3 separate regions of the Homo sapiens genome follow, and all the other regions are linked to region 1. Evidence: fine-mapped expression QTL. A gene starts in region 1. Each other region holds a variant in brackets. All regions are shown on one strand. Distances are from middle to middle. Region 1 holds the start of CEACAM21 (CEA cell adhesion molecule 21). Region 2 overlaps ERFL (ETS repressor factor like). Region 3 holds the start of B3GNT8 (UDP-GlcNAc:betaGal beta-1,3-N-acetylglucosaminyltransferase 8).

Region 1 (7,533 bases):
GGCTGCCTGTACCTCACAGCAGGAATGACATGGGCTTTCCAAGGATCTATACAACAAAAACCAGAATGACACACACTGAGTTACACTACAAAGTGGGACATGGGGGATCCTGTAGACATTGAAAGAAGAAAATGCATGACCCCAAGGCACCAGATAGTCCACTCTGATGCTCTCACCATCCTAGAAAACATCTCAGCCATGAATGCAGTCACATATGTCATTAGGAAGGAATGTCTTATTAAGGGGAAAATTGTAGCAAAGGAATTTCTGTTTATGTTCAAATTTGTAGACTTTTGTATTATTCTTTAAATAAGAATCTACTCTCCCCCAAAATGAATGCAATCAGTGTCTGGACAGTGTTGGGGTCTTACTCCTGGCCCCTGGGAGCTGGGAGCTGACAGTGCCCTGCTGCCCCAGCCCTGGGCCTTCTCTGAACCTCAAGAACACTGGATGGCCCCCATTTAGGGAGTAGAGAGGAGAGGTCTTTTAAACATCCTCACCAGTCACCTCTCCACCTTTCAGACCCTGGGCAGAATCTGTTGCCCACTCTTGGATTTGATCTTTAAGTTACTGACTTTAAAGCATTTTGACACTTTTTTTTTTTTTTGGTAGTCAGAAGCTTTCCACCTCCTTGGGAAAAGTGATTCTCTACTCTATGTACAGGAATAACCAGTAGAAATAGAGAAAAAATGCATTAATATTCAGAAAGAAGATGATCTCTATGTGAACAAATGAAAGCTTAAAATCATCAGAGTCAACATAAAATCAACATTGCCAGTGCTAAAACTACAAAAGTGACATTAACGGTGAACTAGAAGAATAAAACAAGCATTACAGTTGCTGGTAAACCTAAATCACTTATTTTTTTAAAAGACCATTCTGGTATATTGCAATGATGACAGGAGTGCCCTTCAGTCAATATGATGCCTGTAATTTTTGTGACCTGGCAAGATATACTGTCCCTTCTCCTTTTAAATCTCAAATGCAAAATGAGAGGCAACTCCTGGGTCACCCCCTCCCAGAGCAAACTGCCTGCAAGCAGCCCCTGGAAGAGCAGAGGCCCTAGTTTCCCTGATCCTCAAGGCAGGAGCGATGGGAAGCTCCCTGTAAGCCGGGGGAGAGCTTTGTTCCCAGAATGTTCCTCCTCTTCCCAGAGGCACCAACCCCGATGCCCTGACACTTACCTTCTGCTCTCTCGCCCAATGTTCACTCAAATATTGAGTGCTTGGTGAGTCTGCAGAGCTCAGGAACTTCTGGGAGCCAAATCACCACCAGCTCCTCCAGAAAAGATACCTGTGCACACCCAAAACCACCCCACTGAGCCCTGCCTGGGGTCTGTACCACATCCAGCATGTGCACTGTGAGCATAGAATCCGGCCCTGAATTCATGACCACCCACCAACATGCCCCCAACTGAAACCAGCAAATTCCCACACATGGCAAGCACTGAGGCTTGGAGGTGCTTTCTCACGAGGTGGTTCTGCTTCCACCATGGGGTGGTTGTCACTGACACTGGAAGTTGCTCAGCACCTGATAGTGGTGCAGGACTCAGGGACCCTCAACATCAATCTGGTGAAGGCAGATGGGGCCCCTCCAGATCTTCTCCCACCTGCAGGTGCCCAGCTCAGTAAGACCCCAACCCTGGGAGGAGGATCCAGACCCCTGTGCCAGGTAGACCAAGCTTGAGGCCTCAGGCAATGAGAGAGAAGGAGATGGAGGTCTGACCAGGAGCTGCTCTTCCTTGAGAGCCCGGGTCCCTTCCTTGTGCAAAGGCTTGGCTTATGAACAGAATCCTCAATCTGTAGTGACAGTGCCTAAGAGGATGACATGGACTCCGGCCTGATGTGCAGCCGTCCCTGTCTAACCCCTCCCTGCTGCAGGACAGCACCAGCCCAGGAGAGGAATCCTCAGTTGGGGAGCCAGTAAGAACATGGAATACTCGGGGCCTCTTACCTTCCTCCAGTCCACAGCAGCAGCCACCGTTTGTGCCTAGGACACCCACCTGCTGGCCCTTCTGACCCTTACAGTCAGGCCTTCCAGATGCCACTCCTGACTCAAGGCCCAGCTACTTTCACCCTGCTGAGCCCTGCTCCTCCCAACCAGGGTCACTGCCTTGCTAAGCACCTCCTCCAGCTCCAGCTGACTGGTCACCCAACACCCAAACCCCAGAGGACAAACAAGAAAATAAACAGATATGAAGTCTGAAGGAGATGCAGGCTATGAAGACAAATAAAAGAGTAAGCATGAATATAACTCCACCAACAAAATTGTTTCCCAAAACAAAATCTTCTGTGCCCATGATCATGGAACTAATTGTCCCTCACTATGTAGGCAAGCACTTCCAGGGTCTCTCAATTATTTCATGGGTGTCAATATACACTGTAACATAGCAACTCAGAAAAGAAAGTGGGAATAATTTATCTACTTAGATTAAGGTCCTAAAAAGGTCTCCAGACTGCCAAAAAAGGAGAGCTGAACCACTCCTGCTTTGAGAACCATTGAACTACATCTTTTTTAAAAGTCACCCCAGAATGGCCAAAACAATCTGGAAAAAAAAATTGGAGGACTCACTTCCTAATTTGAAAACTTACTAAAACACTACAATCATTAAAACAGTGTGCTTCTGGCACAAGAATGCACATAGAGATCAATGGAATAGAATCAAGAGTCCAGAAATAAACCCTCACCATTACAGCCCATTGGTTTTTGACATGGGTGCCAAGATTCCTCAATGGGGAAAGAATGGTAGCCTCTTCATATTGTGCTGGAACAACTGGATAACCACATGCGAGATAGTGTAGTTAGACCCCTACCTCACAGCCCATACAAAAGTTAACTCAAAATGTTTCAAAAACCTAAATGGAATAGCAAAACTTATCAAACCATTAGAAGAACATATAGGAGTAAAACTTAATGATCTTGGATTGGGCAATGGTTTCTTCAATATGACATCAAGAGCATAAGTAACAAAATTAAAAATAGATAAGTGAACTTCATCAAAGTTAAAAATGTTTGTGCTTCAAAGAACACCATGAAGAAAGTGAGAAGACACAGAATATGAGAAAAATTTTGCAAATCATGTACCCCATAAGGGACTTGTATCTAAAATATATAAAGAACTATTACAACTGAATAATAAAAAGATAACCCATTTTTTTTAAACAGCAAATGATTTGAATAAATAGTTCTCTAAAAAATATTAAAATTGTCAGCAAATACATGAAAAAATGCTCAACTTCATCAGCCACCAGGGAAATGAAAATCAAAACTGCAATGAGCTATCACTTCACACCTACTAGAATGGCTATAAGTTTTAAAAAATATTAAATAGTAAGTGTTTACAAGAATGTAGAGAAAATGGAACCCTCGTATATTGCTGATGGGAATATAAAATAGCACAGCAAACTGGAAAACAGTTTGGCTGTTTCTCAAAAACTTAAACATAGAACTACCACATGACCCCATATTTATACTCCTATATGTACCCCCAAAGAAATGAACACAGAAACCCAAACAGATACTTCCAAGTGTAAGTTCATTGCAGCGGTTTTCACAATAGCAAAAATGTGGAAACCACCCACATGTCCATTAAGAGATGAATGAATTAAAATTGAGGTATAAACATATATTGGGATATTACTCAGCCATAAATAGGAAAGAAGCTGTAATATATGCTACGACGTGGATGAATCTTAAAAGTGTTACCCTAAGAGAAATAATCCAGAAAAAAATAATACACGTATATAATTCCTTATTATATGAGACATGTAAACTAGGCAAATTCACAGAGATTGATAGTATCAGAGGCTACCAGTGGGTGGGGCAGGGGGAAGTGGGGAGTTATTGATTAAAAGTATGAAGTTTCCATTTGGTATAATGAAGATTTTCTGGTAAAAAATTATGGTGATGGTTGTACAACATTGTGAATAGAATTAGTATCATTTAATTCTACACTTAAAATTGCTAATTCAGTACATTTATCTTATGTATTATACCATATCTAAAGAGATCTTTGGGAAACAAACACTCGCCCTGATCAGATAGTCCTCATACTCATGTACACACCCTTCCTGACCTTCTGTAAAAAGGGATACAAAGATTTAGGGACATGAGACAGTTCAGGCAACTGCAGATCCACAAAATATATGTATTTGCAAAGAGAATGAGAGTTAAGCTGGGGGCACAGACCCCAGACACGGAGAGGGTCCCCCTGAAACCTTCACCAAGGACAGCAGAACCCAGAGCCTCCCACCTCCTTCCATCAAAGTCCTCTCTTCCCAGGACACACAGGACACCTCCCTCCACACCTAGGAGCTGGGGATCCTCCCGAGACCTCCAGGCCTGGGTCTCTGTCCCTGGGTCAGAGGCCAGGCTGGTGACACTGAAGATAGCGGGTGGGTCCTTCCCAGCCATCACCCAGTGAGCCCCTTTCTAGCCCCCAGAGCCACCTCTGTCACTTTCCTGCTGGGCATCATTCTGCCTTCCTGGAGCACTGGAGAGCATGAGGAGACCCAGGGCCCAGCTGGTTTTGTGTGTCACAAAGGGAAATAATCTACCGGCTGTGACAGAACCAAGGCCAGAACACAGCAGAGGTCAGTACTGGGGAGAGTGGGTCGTCCTGTTATGAGGACCCCATCAGCGTTGCTTCTCAAAGTTTTGCCTAGGGAACCAAATATAGGCAAAAAGGAAGGAGAAAGGAGGGACAAGGGAGGCAGGACTGAGAGGGGAGGGGACAGAGAGACATTGTAGGCAGAGCCCCGCCCTTGCCCATAAACGGGAAGTGCTCCTGCCTGAGAGGAAGCTCAGCATAGAGGAAGGAAGGACAGCAGAGACAACAGTCACAGTAACCCTGTCTAGAGCGTTCCTGGAGCCCAAGCTCCTCTCCACAGAGGAGGACAGAGCAGGCAGCAGAGACCATGGGGCCCCCCTCAGCTTGTCCCCACAGAGAATGCATCCCCTGGCAGGGGCTCTTGCTCACAGGTGAGGGGAGGACTCCCTGGGAGTGGGTGGGAGGAGGGAGCACAGAGACTGGCTGGGGTCTCCTGGGGAGGATGGGGCTCTGAGAGGAGACAGAGGGCTTTTGTTAGAGACTCAGGGGAGAGAGCGTCTAAGGAGAACCAAAAAATCTAAGTGAACTGGAATTGCCAAGGGGCAAAACAATCTCAGTTGGTCCATGTTTTCAAGTTCATTGTCAGTGGCCACTACACTTTGAAAATGATAGTAAAACTATATCACAGTGACAATTTAAATAAAAACACCACCAGGGCATGAAACTCTGTCTTCATCTGCCAACCTCAGACATTAGCAAATAAACCCCAGGATATGGAAGGCCCTGGGAACGCTCATGAACTCATCCACAGGAGTCTGCAGCCTGTCCCAGGCACTGGGGTGCAACTAACATCACTCAAGTCCATGCCCTCACAGAGCTCACAATCTCATGGGGGGGAAGACAGACACCCAAAGAGATCTAGAATGTGAGGTCAGGTGCTGACAAGAGCCCTGGAGGGAACAGAGCTGGGAAAGGTCAGAAAGGGAAGACCCAGGGTCTCTAGAGGAGGCTTCACGAAAGAAGTCTCCCAGGGATTCCCTTGTGTGAGTAGGAACTGAAGGCAGTGGGGAGGGAACCATGCAGACCCCTGGGAAAGAGGGTTCACACAAGGAAATGCCAAGGTCAGAGGTACTGAAGGAATGAGGGTCATGCTGCTGACTTTGACCCAGTAGGACACACACACACACACACACCCTCTAAGGCTGAGGGGTGAAGAGACCTGCACCCAGGACCCCGTCTTTCCATGCCAATGCATAGGTCAAATATTGACTGATATTCTCTCCCTTTCCTAGCCTCACTTTTAACTTTCTGGAACGCACCCACCACTGCCTGGCTCTTTATTGCATCAGCGCCCTTTGAAGTTGCTGAAGGGGAGAATGTTCATCTCTCTGTGGTTTATCTGCCCGAGAATCTTTACAGCTATGGCTGGTACAAAGGGAAAACGGTGGAGCCCAACCAGCTAATCGCAGCATATGTAATAGACACTCACGTTAGGACTCCAGGGCCTGCATACAGCGGTCGAGAGACAATATCACCCAGTGGAGATCTGCATTTCCAGAACGTCACCCTAGAGGACACGGGATACTACAACCTACAAGTCACATACAGAAATTCTCAGATTGAACAGGCATCTCACCATCTCCGTGTATACGGTGAGTGATTCCTCCGTGCCTCTGGGTGTTGGGGGTCAGTTCTGCTTCACATACGCAGGATTGTCAGGCCTGGGCTGTGCCTGCATCCCCCTCTGCATTACGTCCCATGTTGGGGTTTGGGCATTTAGTGCAGGACACACCCAGGGGAGACAAACTATAACAGATCAGAATTCCTTTCCCTTATCCGGACTCCGTGGAAATTCCCTACAGCAAGAAGGATAGTCTGATGCGGGAGATGCAGCGGGGGAAAATCAGTCTCAGTCCAACCCCCCTTGGCCTCCTCCTCATAGACATGACCTGAGAAAGATCTTATAGGACTCAGTCAGGGCCTGGCCTGAGGATCCTCTGAGAGAAGCTCAGCCCTTGAAGCCCCTGCCCCAGGCCCCTGTCCCAAGATCCTGACTCCAGATGACCCTGGGGAGCCTGTGCCAGGGCTGGGTTGTGGCTTCCTGGGCAGGGCTGATTGTGAGCAAGGATTTACCAGCTGTCCCAGGGCCGTGGTTCCTAGAGCTGGTCACCAGGCAGGGCTCAGCCCCCAGAGCCCCATCTGGGCAAGGGCAGAGCCTCATCTTTCACCTGAGAGTCAGAGTGGAGAGGACAGACAAACAAACTTCCCAGGCCATTAAACTGGATGGGAAACTTAAAAGATGTCCCGGGAAGTGCACTGTCCTCAGGAGGAGGGAAAGCAGAGAAAAGACACTCTGGACCGCTCCTTCTCCACCAGGAATCAGGCCCAGAGAACTCTTTTTTTTTTTTTTTGGAGTAAAATAATAATAGATGATGTTTATTTGGAGCTATTCTGTGCCAAGCTTTAGGTCAGGTAATTGTAAATATTTTAATGTTAATTTACAGAGAGGATGGCAAGCCAGGGACCATTGACATGTACCCCATTTTATTAAAGAGAAATTGCATCAGCATCACACAGGCTGTCAGTGCTCAACGTCACACCACCGTGTGTCTGCAGCCCAGAATCTGGTCGTGGCCACCACCGTGGGGCATCTGTGGACCCCAGGACCAGATGTTGGTTCAGCTCCTTTCTTCTTGGGCATCCTCAGCTCAGAGAGGGAGATTCTGGTCTGAGGAATGACGGGCAAATGGAGAATTAGTCAGTTTTTACTTAGAACGAAATCACCTGTCTCAACTATCAGACTCAATGCCAGGATTGTCCAAGCCTCTCCCATCAGATCCACATTCCTTCCCTCACTGGACGTGAAATCATGAATTTCTTGATTTGTTGATGTCACTCCCATGGGAGGATGAAGGAAAGGACTCAGCTTTCTCTTCCCACTACACCCTGTACCTGCACAAGGCCCAACTGAGACACACACTCAG
Region 2 (7,533 bases), 340 kb after region 1:
CATGCCCATGTCCGTCCAAGAGCAGTCCAGAACGATGTGTGTGTGTGCGTGGACACACACATGCCCACGGAAGACATGTCACACAGACATCAGTTCACTTGCCTGAGACACACAGCCACACTGGGACACAGGCACACCGGAGTGCCACACTCATGCTGGGGGCCACCAAGGCTGACATGGCAGACACAGGCTGCGCAAGACTCAAGGTCACGTCATCTCAACAACCCCACAGTGCACACCCATCACAACACAGAATTACACATCTCAAGACTGGGACTTACTAACAACACAAATGCCTGACAAGACACACACAGGACCCCAAATGCCCAAAGAACACACTGTACGATGGAGACGGTGAACACAGCACCAAGATATCCATGTCCCCAGACACACAGGGTGACAGCATGTCAGTAGAGCAACTTCCCAAACCTGCACACAGAGGCACCCACATGTCAGCACTGACACCCCCGGCTCACTCAGCATCACGTCTCACATGCAGAGGGGAGTACTCCACTGTCCACATACCCCCAGGAGCTGGGCACCCCGAAATCTCATCTCCCATGCAGAAGGCCCCAAGCCCTGGGTCCAACTTCTGTGTTCACTCTTATGCCACATCCTCTGTCCCCTTCCCCCTCCTCAGAGACCCCAGACCCAGGCATGAAAATAGAAGGCAGAGTGAGTCCATAAAAAGCTGGCAGCAGTGCAGGAGAGAGGAGACTGCTGTGCGCCAGGGCAGGGGAGACCAGCATCGCCGTGTCCACTTGCTGTGTGATTACGGGCAGGTCCTTACCCTCTCTGGTTTAGAACTGCACAGGTGGAAGGCAAGGGGGCGCAGGGTCCCACCCAGGCTGCCTGGTGTAGAAAAGTGGGTGCTTGTGCCTCCCGGCCTGAAGGCCGGGGAGCTCCAGGCAGTCTCCTTGAGGGAGAATTTTTATCTCCATTCATTTTTGGGTCTTTCTCACCTCCCATGACAGGGCTGGATCCAGACTCCAGCTCTGACCCATTCCACACCCAGAACACATCCTACTGGGGAGGCAACTGTATCACAGACACACCCACAGGACCCCAAGGTGACAAGAGGACACCCAACCCGATACTCCATCTGTCCTCAAATGCACACCCTCAAATATGTTGTACCTATGAGGCACAGGCACAGCTAGAGAGAGGACCCCCAAACTCAGTAGGCAGACACACACATGTGACAGACAAACCCCCAGAATTCACTCATGTGCACATGGACCCTACGCTGAAAACCAGACACAGCCCCCAACACAGAGGCCCAGGGATGCATCCCCCCCACAGCCCCAAATGCACCAAGACAGCCATGCGGAACGCCACACAACCCGAGACAGACCGCAAGAAACAGGCAAAGGCTCCTCACCCCACTCAGGCAGAGGCACAGTCGGAGAGCTGGCAGACGCCCCCATCCCAAAATGCGGACACGCCCAGCCCAGAGACACTCAAGTAGCCTCAGATGTGCACGTACAAGCAAATACACAAGCTCACACAAAGACAGGCTGTGCAGACACATTCTCCCAGTGTGACCCCTTCTAGAAACACTGAAGTGTGACACAGGGACACACTGAAATGAGACCCCAAATAACCAAGGACAGAGTCTCTGTCTGTCTCTCACACACACACACACCCCTCCCGCTGCACATCAGCATGGTGTCTGACCAGCTTCACCGTCCACCAACCCCGGTTGCAAGCTGTCCTCTTTCCTGGGTCTCGGTCTGGCCGGGTCGTGCCTGCACGTACCCCTGACTGGGCAGTGCCGTCTGTCTACCTGTCCATCCGTGCCTGGCCTAGTGCCCCCTCCAGCCCAGTCCCTGCTCTCTTTTCCCCGCAGGTCCTGCGTGGGAGCAGGCTGAGACGTGCGTGGCAGGGATGCCCGGGCCTCGGGCCCCTCCGTCCTCACCCCTCACTCACTTCCGTACCCTCCCAGAAGACCCACCTATCCCCCCAGCACGCAGGGGGCAGGGGAATCTGGCTGCGAAGTTTTTAGCCAAGTTTCTCAGAAGGGGTTTGATTTGGGGGACTGACCAAGACTGAGAGAGAAGGACCCACGGACTAGAGTGAGACACGTGGAGACACGGAGAGAAGGGGGATGCGGCTCACTGGGGAAGCCTGAGGGGTGGGGGAAGGGGTGGGGGAGGTCCGGGCCAGTTACCGGGGGTCCAGAGAGCCGGCAGGGCGGGCGGGGCGAAGAGAAGGTCGGAGACGCAGCTACAGTCCATGGCGGAGCCGGCCCTGCAGAGGCCGGGAGGGACACACGGGGACGGGGTGGGCAGGAGAGACAGACACAGGTCAGCCAGCGGGGCGCTGCCCGGGGCCTTCCCCTCTCCCAGGTCCCCACCCCAGCCTGACACCCTCTCCCCGCAATCCCTCCTGCCCACTCCCTCCCGCAGGCACCGCTCTGTCCCCAGCCGTTCCCGGCCCCGAGACCCCGTTCCTTCCCTCCCAGCCTCTCCTCCCGCAGCCTCCTCCTCACTCGGTGCCTCCATCACTAACTACGCCGCTCCCAGCCTCCCTCCCCGCTCCCCGCCACTCGCTCACGCTCTCACACTCGCTGGCTCTCACGCCCGCCCGCCCGCCCGCCGCTCGCGCCCCGCACCGTCTCTGCTGCCGTCTCCCGTCCCCGCTCTCCCGCCTGACCTCCCGGGTCGGTCGGTCCCTGCGTCTCTGGGTCTCCCTCTGTCTCTCTCTCTGGCTGCCCCAGATTTATCTTGTTCTATAACTTGCCCCCACACCCGCCCCACCCGGACGACCCCCAGGCGGGCTCTTCCAGCCCAGGCGCAGCCCTGACCCGCAGCCGCCCAGGACGGGCTGCAGGGGGGCAGGCCCAGCACCCCCTCCTCCAGTCCTCTACCCCACAGGGCAGCCCCCAGCGCCCTGCAGGAGGCCTCCACAGACCCTAGACCTGCTGCTCACCCTGAAGACCCCTGTCACTTGGATCTGCCTCCCTCCTCAGACACCCCTTCCCCTCACATCTGCCTCCCCTGTCAGACCCCCTCCCTCAGACACTCCCTCTCCCTAGATATCTTACGCCCCTAAGATACTCCATCCCCTCCTCACTCCAGTCTCCCCGCACCTTTCCCCCTCTTATGGCGCCTCCCCTCCACACACACACCCTTGCAATCCACTCCCTCTCACACCCCTCCGCAGACACACGCTGCCCTCGCGCTCCCGAGACCCCTCCCCTCAGGCACTTCAGCCCCTCACTGCCACCCTCACACCCCACCTCTGGAGCACCTTCTTCCTGGAGACCCCCCAGACGCTCTCAAAAACCCACTCCTCTTAGACACCCTGATACTCCCCACTGCTCCCATGCGCCCCCCAGCCAGAAACCCCTCAGACCCTGGCAGCCCACACTGTGTTCCCCCGTGAGCCCCGCCTACCCCTGGACACTGGACAAAACTTTTCAGACACCCCATGTCCCCTCAGACTCGCCCGGTCTCCCCACAGAGGCCCCAACCTCAGATGCCCCCACCTCCCATCTGCCTCCTGGAGCCTCCCCTGTCCCAGGCCCCCTCTGTTCCCACACCTGTCTCCCCGTCTTTCTCCATCTGCCCCGTCTCGGTATCTCTCCCTCTCCATCTCTGTCTCTCCGGTCACTTGGTCTCTTCTCCCTTCCGTCTCCCCCCACCATCTCCCTTCCATTTCTGTCTCTCTCCTCCACCAAGGGGGTCTCTCTCCCCACCTCACTGCCCTCTCCCTCTCGTCTCCATCTCCTCCTCCACCCCTCAGTCTCTTCCCTGTTTCTCCATCTC[T/C]CACCCCTGCTTCTTCTCCATCTGTCTCTCCATCTTCCCAGTGTGTCCATCTCTGTCTCCCTATGACTTTCTCCCCATCTCTGCTATCCGTCTTTCCCTCCCCTTCCACCATCTCTGTCTCCGTCTCTCCCTCCCTTTCCACCATCTCTGTCTCTCCCTCCCCTTCCACCATCTCTGTCTCTGTCTCTCCCTCCCTTTCCACCATCTCTGTCTCTCCCTCCCCTTCCACCATCTCTGTCTCTCCCTCCCCTTCCACCATCTCTGTCTCTCCCTCCCCTTCCACCATCTCTGTCTCTCCCTCCCCTTCCACCGTCTCTGTCTCTCCCTCCCCTTCCACCGTCTCTGTCTCTCCCTCCCCCTCCACCGTGTCTCCCCCCCTTTCCACCGTCTCTGTCTCTCCCCCCCTCCACCATCTCTGTCTCTCCCTCCCCTCCATCATCTCTGTCTCTGTCTCTCCCTCCCCCTCCACCATCTCCGTCTCTGTCTCTCCCTCCTCTTCCACTATCTCTGTCTCTCCCTCCCTCCCCCTCCAGCATCTCTGTCTCTCCTGTCTCTGCCCCCACCGTGTCCCTGTCCCGCGTCTCTCCAGCAGCCCCGCTCCCCCACACCTCTCCCCCACCCATCGCTCTCCCACCTCCCGCTCTCTTTGCCTCTCAGGGTCCCCCTCCTTCCTCCCCCCGCCCCCACCCCCTATTGGCCCCTCTCATTTCCGTGTTGGTTTTGATTTCTCTTCCCGACGCTTTCAACTCCCCGCCGCCTCCTCCGGACACGTTATAACGAGGAGCCGTGGGATCGGCGCTCCGGGCCCTGCTCCCACGCTCCCCCCGCCGTGTCTCACACGCGTCTCTGCCATCTCGCAGTCTCTGTGCCCAGCCTTCGTCCTGTGTCAGGCCCCACAGGGACCTGGACCCCTCGCCCTTGCCCATCGCCTCTGCCGCCCTGTCCCCGTCCGTCTGTCCGTCCCTCCCATCTCTGGGTCTCCATGCCTCCCTGTCTCTTGGTTCCCACGTCGTCTCCACTTCTGTGTCCCCACGTCTCTGTGTCCCCATGTCTCTGGGTCTCCACATGGCTCTGTTTTAATGTCTAGGGTCTCCACACCCCTGTCTCCGTCTCCACATCTCCATATCTCCTCCTCCTCAAGTCCCTGTCCTGTCCCCATGTCCCCCATCTCTGTCTCATCTGTCTCTGTCTCCATGCCCCATCTCCCTGTCTCTGTGTCTCTGTCTCCATGTCTCCATCTCCATGTCTCTATGTCTCTGTCTCTGTTTCTGTCCCGGTGTCCGTCTCTTGGGGTCCCTTTGATCTCACCCTGCCCCTGGCGCCCCCCTGGCCCCATTGATCGCTGATCGACTGATGGAGGGAGCGCGGCCTGCGGGGCCTGGGGCTGCAGGGCCAAACAGGGCCTGGCAGGACGGCCGGACAGATGGACAAACGGCCCCAGCCCCAGTGGCTGTGGATGGGGAGCAGCCACAATCCCCCACCCCCCTCCCCCCCGCCGGCCGGCGTGGTGCGGATGGGTACTCCAGGCAAGCTTTAATTTTTAATTTTATTTTGCTTCCTCCACCCCCCCTTCGCCCCCCATCTCTACCGCCCGCAGCCATGGCACCGAATGTGTGTGCGCATGTGAGCGAAGCGGTGTGCAGAGGCGCTGGGCAGGCGAGGGCCCTCCTCCCTTCTCTCCCTGCCAAGCACAACCACACAGACCCACACACCAACCCAGGCACGCACACCACCACGTCCCACACAGCACACATCGCACAGATGCACACACCAGCACAGCCACACACACACCATCACATACCACACACTGCATGAGCCCACATGTCAACAAAGTCACACACAGCACCACGTCCCACACAACACATCACACACACCAACAAAGCAACGCATACCACTGCTGCCACACACAACCCACATCACACAGATGCATGTGTCAGTAAAGTCACACACCAACACTGTCACAGTCACACACACACACATCAGCATAGTCACAGATGCACAGAAACAGACACACAGTTTTACACAAATACACACATGACACATCAATTCAATCTCACACAGAAACAAAGACACAAAATCACAAATCCTAGACACACTGTGTAAACACATAATCACACACTGAGGCTCACAATCAAATACAGAAACCCAGATTCCCAAGCACACAATCGCACACTGAGACAACAGCACACAGAAACAGACACACAGTCACACAACCAAGCACCACCGACCCTCGAGCGCATACATATGCACTTGGTCACGCATGGAGCCGTAGAGATACACACACCAGCACCAACCCAGACAGCCAACGCACACGGCCACACACACACCCATTCACAGACACAGTCACAATCACACACACACACCAAGATCACGGACCCAAACATACGACCGACAGCGGCCCCTGCAGAGGTACACACAGACACACCCAGACACACTGGGTAGGGGTGGGCACTCAGAGATGACCCCAACCCAAGGCCCCTGCCACTCCTGCTCCCACCATCCCCATCTGTCTGCCTGTCCCTCCATCTGTGAACTTCCCAAGCATGTCTCTGCATGGGTGTGTGTGTGTGTGTGCACATATGTGACACGTGCCCTTGTCTCAGACCTGCTTCTGTGACTGCCTCTCGAGACACAGGTCTCTCGGTCTCTCTCAGCCCCTTCGGGTGTCGGCGCATCTTTCTGTCTGTCTCTGTCACTGAGGGTCTCTGTCTGTCTCTGTCAGAGAGGGTCTTTTCTGCTCATCTTGGCCTGCCTGTCTTTCTAAATATCTCCATCTCTGAGTGTCTCTGTTTCCCCCATCTCTCTCTCTGGGTGCATCTCTCTGTCTCTCTCTGTCTCTGTCCCTCTCTGTCTCTGAGCTCTCTGTCATCTCTCTCTGCCTCTGTCTCCTAACGCCCCATCACCACGCCCCCCTGGGCTGGGGTTTAACCAGTTGTTTTGATTTCTCTAAGCTGCGCCGGCCGCCTCGGGAGCCGCCTCGGGCCTCGCACCCCCACCACCAGCCCCTTCATCCCTCACCCAGGCCCCCCCATCCCCACCTCCCCTTAACACAATCTGCACAATCGGAATGAAAATTGATTTTTTTTTTAAATTTCATATCTTCTCCGGGGCTCTGTCTAAAGAGGAGAGAGACGCGGCCTAAGACCCTTCTGCCACCGCCGCCCCCGCATGCACACACCATGCCCCAAAGCACACGCACGCACGCACACACACACCCTGACTGCACCCACCCATGGCCACACGTTCAGGCACAATCTGGGGACATATCTCTCCTTACGCCACACGCCCATGTAGGACACATCTGTGCACACAGTAGAGACCCACAGTGACACCCACTAGTAGGCACACACACACCATGCACAGCCCCAGCCATGGGACGGCTGCCAGCCCCACCCATCTGTTGCCACACAAACGAGCCCCCAACACCCTGTCCCATCTGGGTGCACGAAGCCAGCTCCCCGCGGTCACACACTGTGTGTGTGTGTGCTCACACACCTGTCCGTCCAGACTATAGCCACGTCCATGTGTACACAGAGCAGGCTCAGGGGCCGGCCCTCGACAGGCACCAGGAGACCCTGTGCCTGTCTTGGAGAGGAGGGGGTTCAGGGGTGATGTGGGGTTTCCTGCATGGGCATGCCCCCCCATCCCGGACGCCACCCCCATTCCCACACTGCCCACATCAAATGCTCTGGCCTGACCCTGGTTGGGGGTGCCTTTGTGCCTGGGGTGTACACATACCCCACATGTATACGCCACATATACA
Region 3 (7,533 bases), 150 kb before region 1:
CCTGCAGCGGTGGGGGCGGCGTACGCAGCCAAGCGGGCCAATGCCAACAGGGTCGTCATCTGTTACTTCGGCGAGGGGGCAGCCAGTGAGGGGGACGCCCATGCCGGCTTCAACTTCGCTGCCACACTTGAGTGCCCCATCATCTTCTTCTGCCGGAACAATGGCTACGCCATCTCCACGCCCACCTCTGAGCAGTATCGCGGCGATGGCATTGGTATGGGCTCTGCTGGCTGCTCCCCACCCCGCTGGGATCATCTCCTTCCCTCCCCAATCCTGCCACCTTCCTGCCACCCCTACCCTCCTTCCTGGTTCTCGTCCTGTGTCCTGTGGCGTCTGGCACTTGGTCAGCCACAGGAGTTGAGGTCCTGAGCACTCAGCCTTGCTCTCTGTCCTCTCCCTGCTCGTCCCCTTGGCCTCGTGCATGTTCCTTATCTCAGCCCTGGCCTGACCTGCCTTCTCTGTGTCCCCACAGCAGCACGAGGCCCCGGGTATGGCATCATGTCAATCCGCGTGGATGGTAATGATGTGTTTGCCGTATACAACGCCACAAAGGAGGCCCGACGGCGGGCTGTGGCAGAGAACCAGCCCTTCCTCATCGAGGCCATGACCTACAGGTGCCTGCCGCTCCCCCCGTCAGCACCCCCACAGCACTGACAGCCACCGTAGCATCTTCCTCATATCGATCACTGTCTCCAAAACATGGCCTTATCACCTGATGTTGCATCTCCCCCTTGCCTTTATTCCGTTTCCACTCCTCCTTCCCTAGTTCATCCCCCATCCTCCCTCCTGACCCCCACTCCAGGGAGCCCACACTGACCTGGGGCCCCTTGCCCCTGTGCAGGATCGGGCACCACAGCACCAGTGACGACAGTTCAGCGTACCGCTCGGTGGATGAGGTCAATTACTGGGATAAACAGGACCACCCCATCTCCCGGCTGCGGCACTATCTGCTGAGCCAAGGCTGGTGGGATGAGGAGCAGGAGAAGGCCTGGAGGAAGCAGTCCCGCAGGAAGGTGAGGGTGCCCCGCCCGGGAGGGTGTGCTGGGGGCTGCTGCGGCCTGCAGAGCTTGGGAAGGATTTGTGGAACACCGAACTGGGAGGCTCAGGGATAACCCCAGTGATGTCTCAGATGTGGCCTGTGGAGCCAGGCTGCTGGGGCCATGTGTGTCCTGGCTCTGTGTCCTTGGCATGTTGCCCTCCACTTCCTTGTCTTTGAAAGGGGATGCTGGTGGTGCCCATTTCAGAAACTGGTTTGAGACTGGGCATGGTGGCTCACACCTGTAATCCCAGCACTTTGGGAGGCCGAGGTGGCAGATCACTTGAGGTCAGGAGCTTGAGAACAGCCTGGCCAAACATGGTCAAGCCCTGTCTCTACTAAAAATACAAAAATTAGGGCTGGGCGCAGTGGCTCACGCCTGTAATCCCAGCACTTTGGGAGGCCAAGGCGGACAGATCACCTGAGGTCGGGAGTTTGAGACCAGCCTGGCCAACATGGTGAAACCTCGTCTCTAATAAAAATACAAAAATTAGCCGGGCATGGTGCCGGGTGCCTGTAATCCCAGCTACTTGGGAGGCCGAGGCAGGAGAATTGCTTGAACCTGGGAGGTAGAGGTTGCAGTGAGCTGAGATCGTACCATTGCACTCCAGCCTGGGCAACGAGAGCAAGACTCCATCTCAAAAAAAAAAATTAGCCAGGCGTGGTGGTGCGTGCCTGTAGTCCCAGCTACTCAGGAAGGTGAGGCAGAAGAATCGCTTGAACCCGGGAGGTGGAACTTGCAGTGATTGGAGATGGCGCCACTGCACTCCAGCCTGGGCAACAGAGCAAGACTATCTCTTAAAAAAAAAAAAAAGCTGGTTTGAGGATTAGGTGGCAAACCGTGGTGGAGTGTACATGCCCTGCCCAGAGTCAGTGTGCCACCCTCCCTGGCCCGGTCATTAGGACCCAGGGCCCGTGCAGCCCAGTGGTGAGGGCAGCACCCGGCATAGGGCAGCACCGTGTGTCCTGTCCCTGCCCTTCTCTGTGCCTCAGTTTCCTCATTGCTTAGCTGTCTACCTCTTAGGGCTGCTGAAAGCCTTAAATGATTCCACACACTTGGATAGCACCTGATCCCTGCTGGGATTTGAGGGTTTTCATTACACTTCTGCTAGGATAATCATTTCCATTGTCGAGGTGGGAACACAAAGGCTTGGAGTGGTTAATTCCTTGCCAAGGCCCCGCAGGAGGAAGCAGGGTCCTGCATGGGAGGCCGGCTAGCCTGCCCACTGCCCCATGTCCCCACAGGTGATGGAGGCCTTTGAGCAGGCCGAGCGGAAGCCCAAACCCAACCCCAACCTACTCTTCTCAGACGTGTATCAGGAGATGCCCGCCCAGCTCCGCAAGCAGCAGGAGTCTCTGGCCCGCCACCTGCAGACCTACGGGGAGCACTACCCACTGGATCACTTCGATAAGTGAGACCTGCTCAGCCCACCCCCACCCATCCTCAGCTACCCCGAGAGGTAGCCCCACTCTAAGGGGAGCAGGGGGACCTGACAGCACACCACTGTCTTCCCCAGTCAGCTCCCTCTAAAATACTCAG[C/T]GGCCAGGGCGGCTGCCACTCTTCACCCCTGCTCCTCCCGGCTGTTACATTGTCAGGGGACAGCATCTGCAGCAGTTGCTGAGGCTCCGTCAGCCCCCTCTTCACCTGTTGTTACAGTGCCTTCTCCCAGGGGCTGGGTGAGGGCACATTCAGGACTAGAAGCCCCTCTGGGCATGGGGTGGACATGGCAGGTCAGCCTGTGGAACTTGCGCAGGTGCGAGTGGCCAGCAGAGGTCACGAATAAACTGCATCTCTGCGCCTGGCTCTCTACCACCTCTGGTCTTTGTTTCCTGGAGTTTGGGGGTGATTTGAGGCCACCCCCAGCTTCTCCACCTTAGATAAATAAGGTCAAGGCTCTTGAGATACCTACTTCCCCCGGAAGCTTGCGCAAGCTGGAAGGTTAACTTCAGCAGACAGGATGGGGGTGGGGGGGTCCTCCAGAGATGGTCTCCTGCTCTCTCACAGAATGGGAGAAGCCTGCTGTCCAGCAGAGTGATGGGGAGCCCAGTGGAGCTAGCCCTGCCCAGCAGGGGTGCAGGGGAGCGTCCAGGATGAAGGTCAGGGTGTGGCCAAGCCCTGCTCCCCACCACTCCAGGGCCCCACAGATGCAAAAACAACCCCAGGCCTCAGAGTGGGGAGTGCATGTTTTTCAAAAACAAAAAGTAGGCAAAAACAGTCCACCACCCCATCTTTCCTGCCCAGGCCCCTGGCTGGGGGAGGCCAAGGAGTGGCTTAAGTTGTCCAGCTTCTGGGCCCTCCTCCCTCCCATCAAGACCTGGAAGGAGGGGCTGAGCCAGGGGCCGGCCCCAGAGGCCCAGGCCAGGTCAGCACCTCCGCCCTCCCCAATGAGAGTCAGCACTGGAGCCTTGGGTCTTGCAGTTGTTTCCAGAGCCGAATGCTGGCCTGGGGGCCCAGGGGCCGTACCAGCAGCAGGTTGCGGAAAGCACAGTGGTCCGCAGTGCGGTCTGCTGGCCAGGCTGTGAGGAAGCCTGGGTGGGCCTGGGGCACCAGGCCCAGGGCTCGGATGCAAAGGCCAGTGTAGACGTCCTCAAAGGGGAAGGGTGCCACACGGGCTGCCGCCCGCAGCAGCCAGGGTGCCAGGCGCCCGGCAATGACGTAGCCACCCCCGCTTGCATAGGCTGGGTAGCCACCTTCGAAGAAGGACTCGGGCACATAGAAGGGTCCTCCTGGCTTCCGGAGAGGCATGGCCTGGGTAAAGACCTCACCCAGGTAGAGGCTTCGGGCCGAGGCAGGTGGCAGGGCCCGCAGGTGAGCCAGCAGGGCAGGGGTGTGTACAAAGGCATCGTCCTGAGCTCGCAAGACAAAACTCACGGTGGGGCAGTGGCGGCCCAGCCAGGCCAGCAGCAGCAGGTCTTTGAGCGTCTGGTTGAATGGGACGTCGAGGAAGTCCCAGAGCAGCAGGTCACTGTAGCGACGGCTCTCCCAGGCCACTAGTGAGTCTAGGTCAGGCCCCGCCTCACCCACCGGAGACCCTAGCAGGAAGAGCAGCCGGATCCCTGGAGCTGGACTGCCCCACGTCTCTCTCACGGCCTGTCGTTCTGCAAAGCGCCCTGGTTCTGACTTGACGGCCAACAGCAGGTAGGGGACATCAGTATCTGAGCAGCTGGAGACTTGGCTGCCACCACCTCCAGGCAGCCACTGTGGGAAGCTCCGGCAGGCTGCTGACAGCAAGAAGCGGCGGAGGTCCTTGGGGTAGGAGGCGAAGTCAGGGATCTCGGTGGCGGCGGCGGCCCCCCAAGCCTGGCAGCCCCCCGTTTCAGTGCTGTCCCCACTGGGCAGGGACCCCAGCCGCCACTGCTGCTGGTTCCAGTAAGCAAAGGGCAGCGGGATAGTCTGGCCCAGGCGGGTGGAGAGGTTGGCAGGTAGGGTGGGCTCAGGGTTGGCTGGCGTGGGGCTTGGCGGGGTGCCCCGAGGGCTGGGGTAGGCCTTGCTGAGCCGGGACTCGGATGTCCACTCGATGTACACTTTGAGGCCCAGGAGTGTGAGCAGTGCTGACAGGCAGAGAAGGCACTTGGGGCAGCGCATGACCCGGCCCAGGGAAGGGGCGGCCGCGGGAGCTACAAGGGAGCCACAGGGGAGCCACGGAGGCCATTGGGGTGTGGGGATGGGCCTCCAGAGAGGGCCCAGCCAGGCCCCAGGCAGACAGCTTCACAATCTCCCATAGTCCCCGCCAACCCCCATAACAGATTCTCTCGGTCCCAGATCCTAAACAGCTCCCCTGACCCAGGGACCTCGTTGGTCCTTATTCCTAGACCTAGGAGTCCCCCATTCCAATCCCGTACCAGCACCCTGTTCTTCCCACTCCGTCCAAATGCTTCCACCTTCCTAAAAGCCCAAGGGTCTACCTCTTCCCTGTCTCCATCCAGGACAAGGGACCTTGCCGTCTATCTCCTCCCTCTCCCTCCATTTATTGCCCTCACCAGGAAATCAGGAGCGGGATTCCTAGCTCCCTGGGGTTAGAAACCCAGCCTGCCTCCCGCAACACCCCAACCCCAGGGACTGGGGAACCAGGGATCCCATGCTTTTTTACCTCTGGGTCTGGCTCCCGCCAGCTCCGGGTGCCGGCCTCAGGTCAGGCCTCCCTCAGCTCCCTCTGATCTGCCTGCCCCAGCCCCTGTGTTGTCGACCGGCGGGGCCCAGCCCTGCCCAGCCAGTCCAGAGGGGCGGGGAGGGGAGTGGAGCGGGAGCAGGGAGGGCCCCAGGGGCCGGGGCGGGGCTGAGGCAGGAGAGAGGGAGGGAGGGAGGGAGGGAGGAGGGCAGGAGGCCGACCTGAGAGATGGGGCTCTGGCGTGTTAGGGCTGGTTTCTGGTGAGACAGCTGGGAAGGGTGCAGGGGGCAGCCACAGAAACAAGACGGGGGCTTTGTGAGGCCTGGGAGGGGAGAACCAGGGCCAGGGGGTGCCAGGGAGGGTGGGGCTGAAGGCTGGGCCTGGGCTGGGGAGTGTTAGAGTGACCAGGGCGAGGCAGGGTCCCACTGAGGCAGAGATGGGGAGGCTGAGAGGCTGGCGCCCGGCTGCACCCATGGCCAGGAGGCGGCAGTGAATGTGCTGAGTGGGAAGGGATCGGCGGGCCTGCCAGAGGGATGTTTGTTGTTGCTGCCCAGTCAGGGTGAGGTGGGGGGAACGGGGCTGGTGAGGAGAAGGAGAGACAGAGACATTGTGGAGAGGGAAGAGACGGCCAGGGAGCAGAGAGAGGAGAACTGGGGTGAGACAGGCGATGGAGAGAGCTGAGGGGGAGAGAGAGAGAAGACGGGCAAGTGGGAAGGTGGCCAGGAGGGAGAGGGGGAGGGAAATGGAGATGGCGAGAAAGATAAGGGGTTGCGGAAGCCCTGTGGGGTGCTCATGGGGAAAGAGAGGTTGAGAGAGGCAGGTGGAGGGCAGAGGGGAGGGACTCAGGCTTCCGAGCCAGACCCAGGCAGAGGCGGAGAGGGAGCCAAGGGGAAGAACAGGAGAGGAAAAGACTGGAGCTTCAAGGGCAATAGAGGGTGACGGGGTGGGGCCCACGGGGAACCCCGGGAGCTAAGCTGATCCCCTGTACCTCCTCCATCCCTCTCGGCACCCGGGCTGCCTGCCCAGCAGCGTGGGAATCTGTTCCTACCTTACCCCCAACCTCCGGCCTGGAGCCAGCCTCACCCCGGGCCCCTCCCCTCCCCCAGCGGCACTGTGACTCCAGGAACACTCACATCCAGCCCCTTGGGGCAGGAGGGGGTGTCTGCCTGTGTTTGCATCCCTGCCCTCCAGGGGCCCCTGCTGTTGGGACTGCATCAGCTCTCTGAAGACCTCCCAAGACATGGGGTAAGACTAAGGGGCTCCCACTAAGCCTGGGCTGACCCCTTCACTCCACCCTGGTTTGGGGCAGGCCTGTCCCCATCATGGCAGGAACACAGTCTGTCAGCAGCAGCAGTTGATGATCTGTCCAGCCCTGATTTCCTCCCCCAAAGTTTGAATAATGGAGCCTGTGGGAACAGCTGGAGGAAGAGAGTGGGGAGGAAGTGGTGAATATTAATGGAATAATAGTTGGAGTGGGAAATGACAGCTAGGGGCTGGGGGCAGGGGCCCGAGCACCTCCTGAGGGAGTCTGCAAGCCCACTCCACTCTGGGGCTGGGGGAGAGGGACTCCAGGCCCCCTGAGCTCATCTAGCTTCTGGGGGCAGGGGGTGCTGCTCCTCCTGGAAGCATTAGGAAGCTTCACAAGGTGCCTTTCTTTTTGCCTTTGCCATGTGCCTCAGTCCGGGTCCAATCAGGAGAGAGAAACCACACAGGAATGGGAATAGGGAAAGTTCAATATACAGAATGATTAACTCTCATGGGATTGGCCACTAAGGGGTGCCTTCTTGGGGAACATGGTTGGAGGGTGGACATGCTGGTGGAACACGATCATTCCAATCCAACACTTCTGTCTCCCCAAGCCTTGGGACTCCCCTCACCCATCTTATGCTAGGGCAGTTCTGGTCTCTCTGCCTCATTAACTTTAGGCCACTGTTGGATCCAAGTTCCGGTTAGGCACCCAAGCAAGCTATTAGAACTACGTCCAGCTGCACAAGGTAACCCATGAAATCCAGAAGCTCTAGAAAGCGCACTCATGCCAGTAAATTTGGCCTGAGCTAGTGTTACATCCACCCTCATTGGTGTAACATCCTTAAAATCCCCTTCTGCACACATTCCCCAAGTTTCTGACTCTGTATATTTGCGAAGCCTTGTCATTCTTATAGTGTAAAAGCTGCTCCCGCCTAGGTCCTAGCTGGCACCTGTTCACCTGGAGCAAGCTGATTTCACCCTAGGTATTTATGGGTCTAGAGGCAGCAAGGGGCGCTGTGGTGAGTCTTAAGAAGAATGGGGTGTATCTGTTATTTCTGTATAAGAGCTGGCCATAAGAAAAAAAAAACTGTGGTGGGACAGTGGCTCACCCCTGTAATCCCAATACTCTGGGAGGCCAAG

What was found. PIP is the estimated chance that this variant, and not a neighbour inherited with it, causes the effect.
Region 2: its variant is fine-mapped to the expression of CEACAM21 in whole blood (TOPMed, PIP above 0.99).
Region 3: its variant is fine-mapped to the expression of CEACAM21 in whole blood (INTERVAL, PIP above 0.99).

The regions. Positions count from the first base shown.
Region 1 is chr19:41,571,359-41,578,891 of GRCh38, forward strand. CEACAM21 (CEA cell adhesion molecule 21) reads left to right here and starts at 4,808. Exons shown (of 7, transcript NM_001098506.4): 1 at 4,808-4,980; 2 at 5,842-6,201. The coding sequence starts at 4,917.
Region 2 is chr19:41,910,683-41,918,215 of GRCh38, forward strand. ERFL (ETS repressor factor like) reads right to left here. Exons shown (of 6, transcript NM_001365103.2): 2 at 2,171-2,250. The coding sequence starts at 2,237. It also overlaps a transcript of ARHGEF1 not described here. Among named protein-coding and RNA genes, the nearest start is that of ERFL, 14 kb to the right of the region's middle. The variant T/C (reference allele first, on the strand shown) is at 3,771.
Region 3 is chr19:41,422,157-41,429,689 of GRCh38, forward strand. BCKDHA (branched chain keto acid dehydrogenase E1 subunit alpha) reads left to right here. Exons shown (of 9, transcript NM_000709.4): 6 at 8-214; 7 at 473-614; 8 at 842-1,013; 9 at 2,282-2,846. The coding sequence ends at 2,452. B3GNT8 (UDP-GlcNAc:betaGal beta-1,3-N-acetylglucosaminyltransferase 8) reads right to left here and starts at 5,218. Exons shown (of 2, transcript NM_001385648.2): 1 at 5,128-5,218; 2 at 3,203-4,654. The coding sequence starts at 4,622. The coding sequence ends at 3,429. RefSeq lists silencers at 5,259-5,368, 5,389-5,538. The variant C/T (reference allele first, on the strand shown) is at 2,577.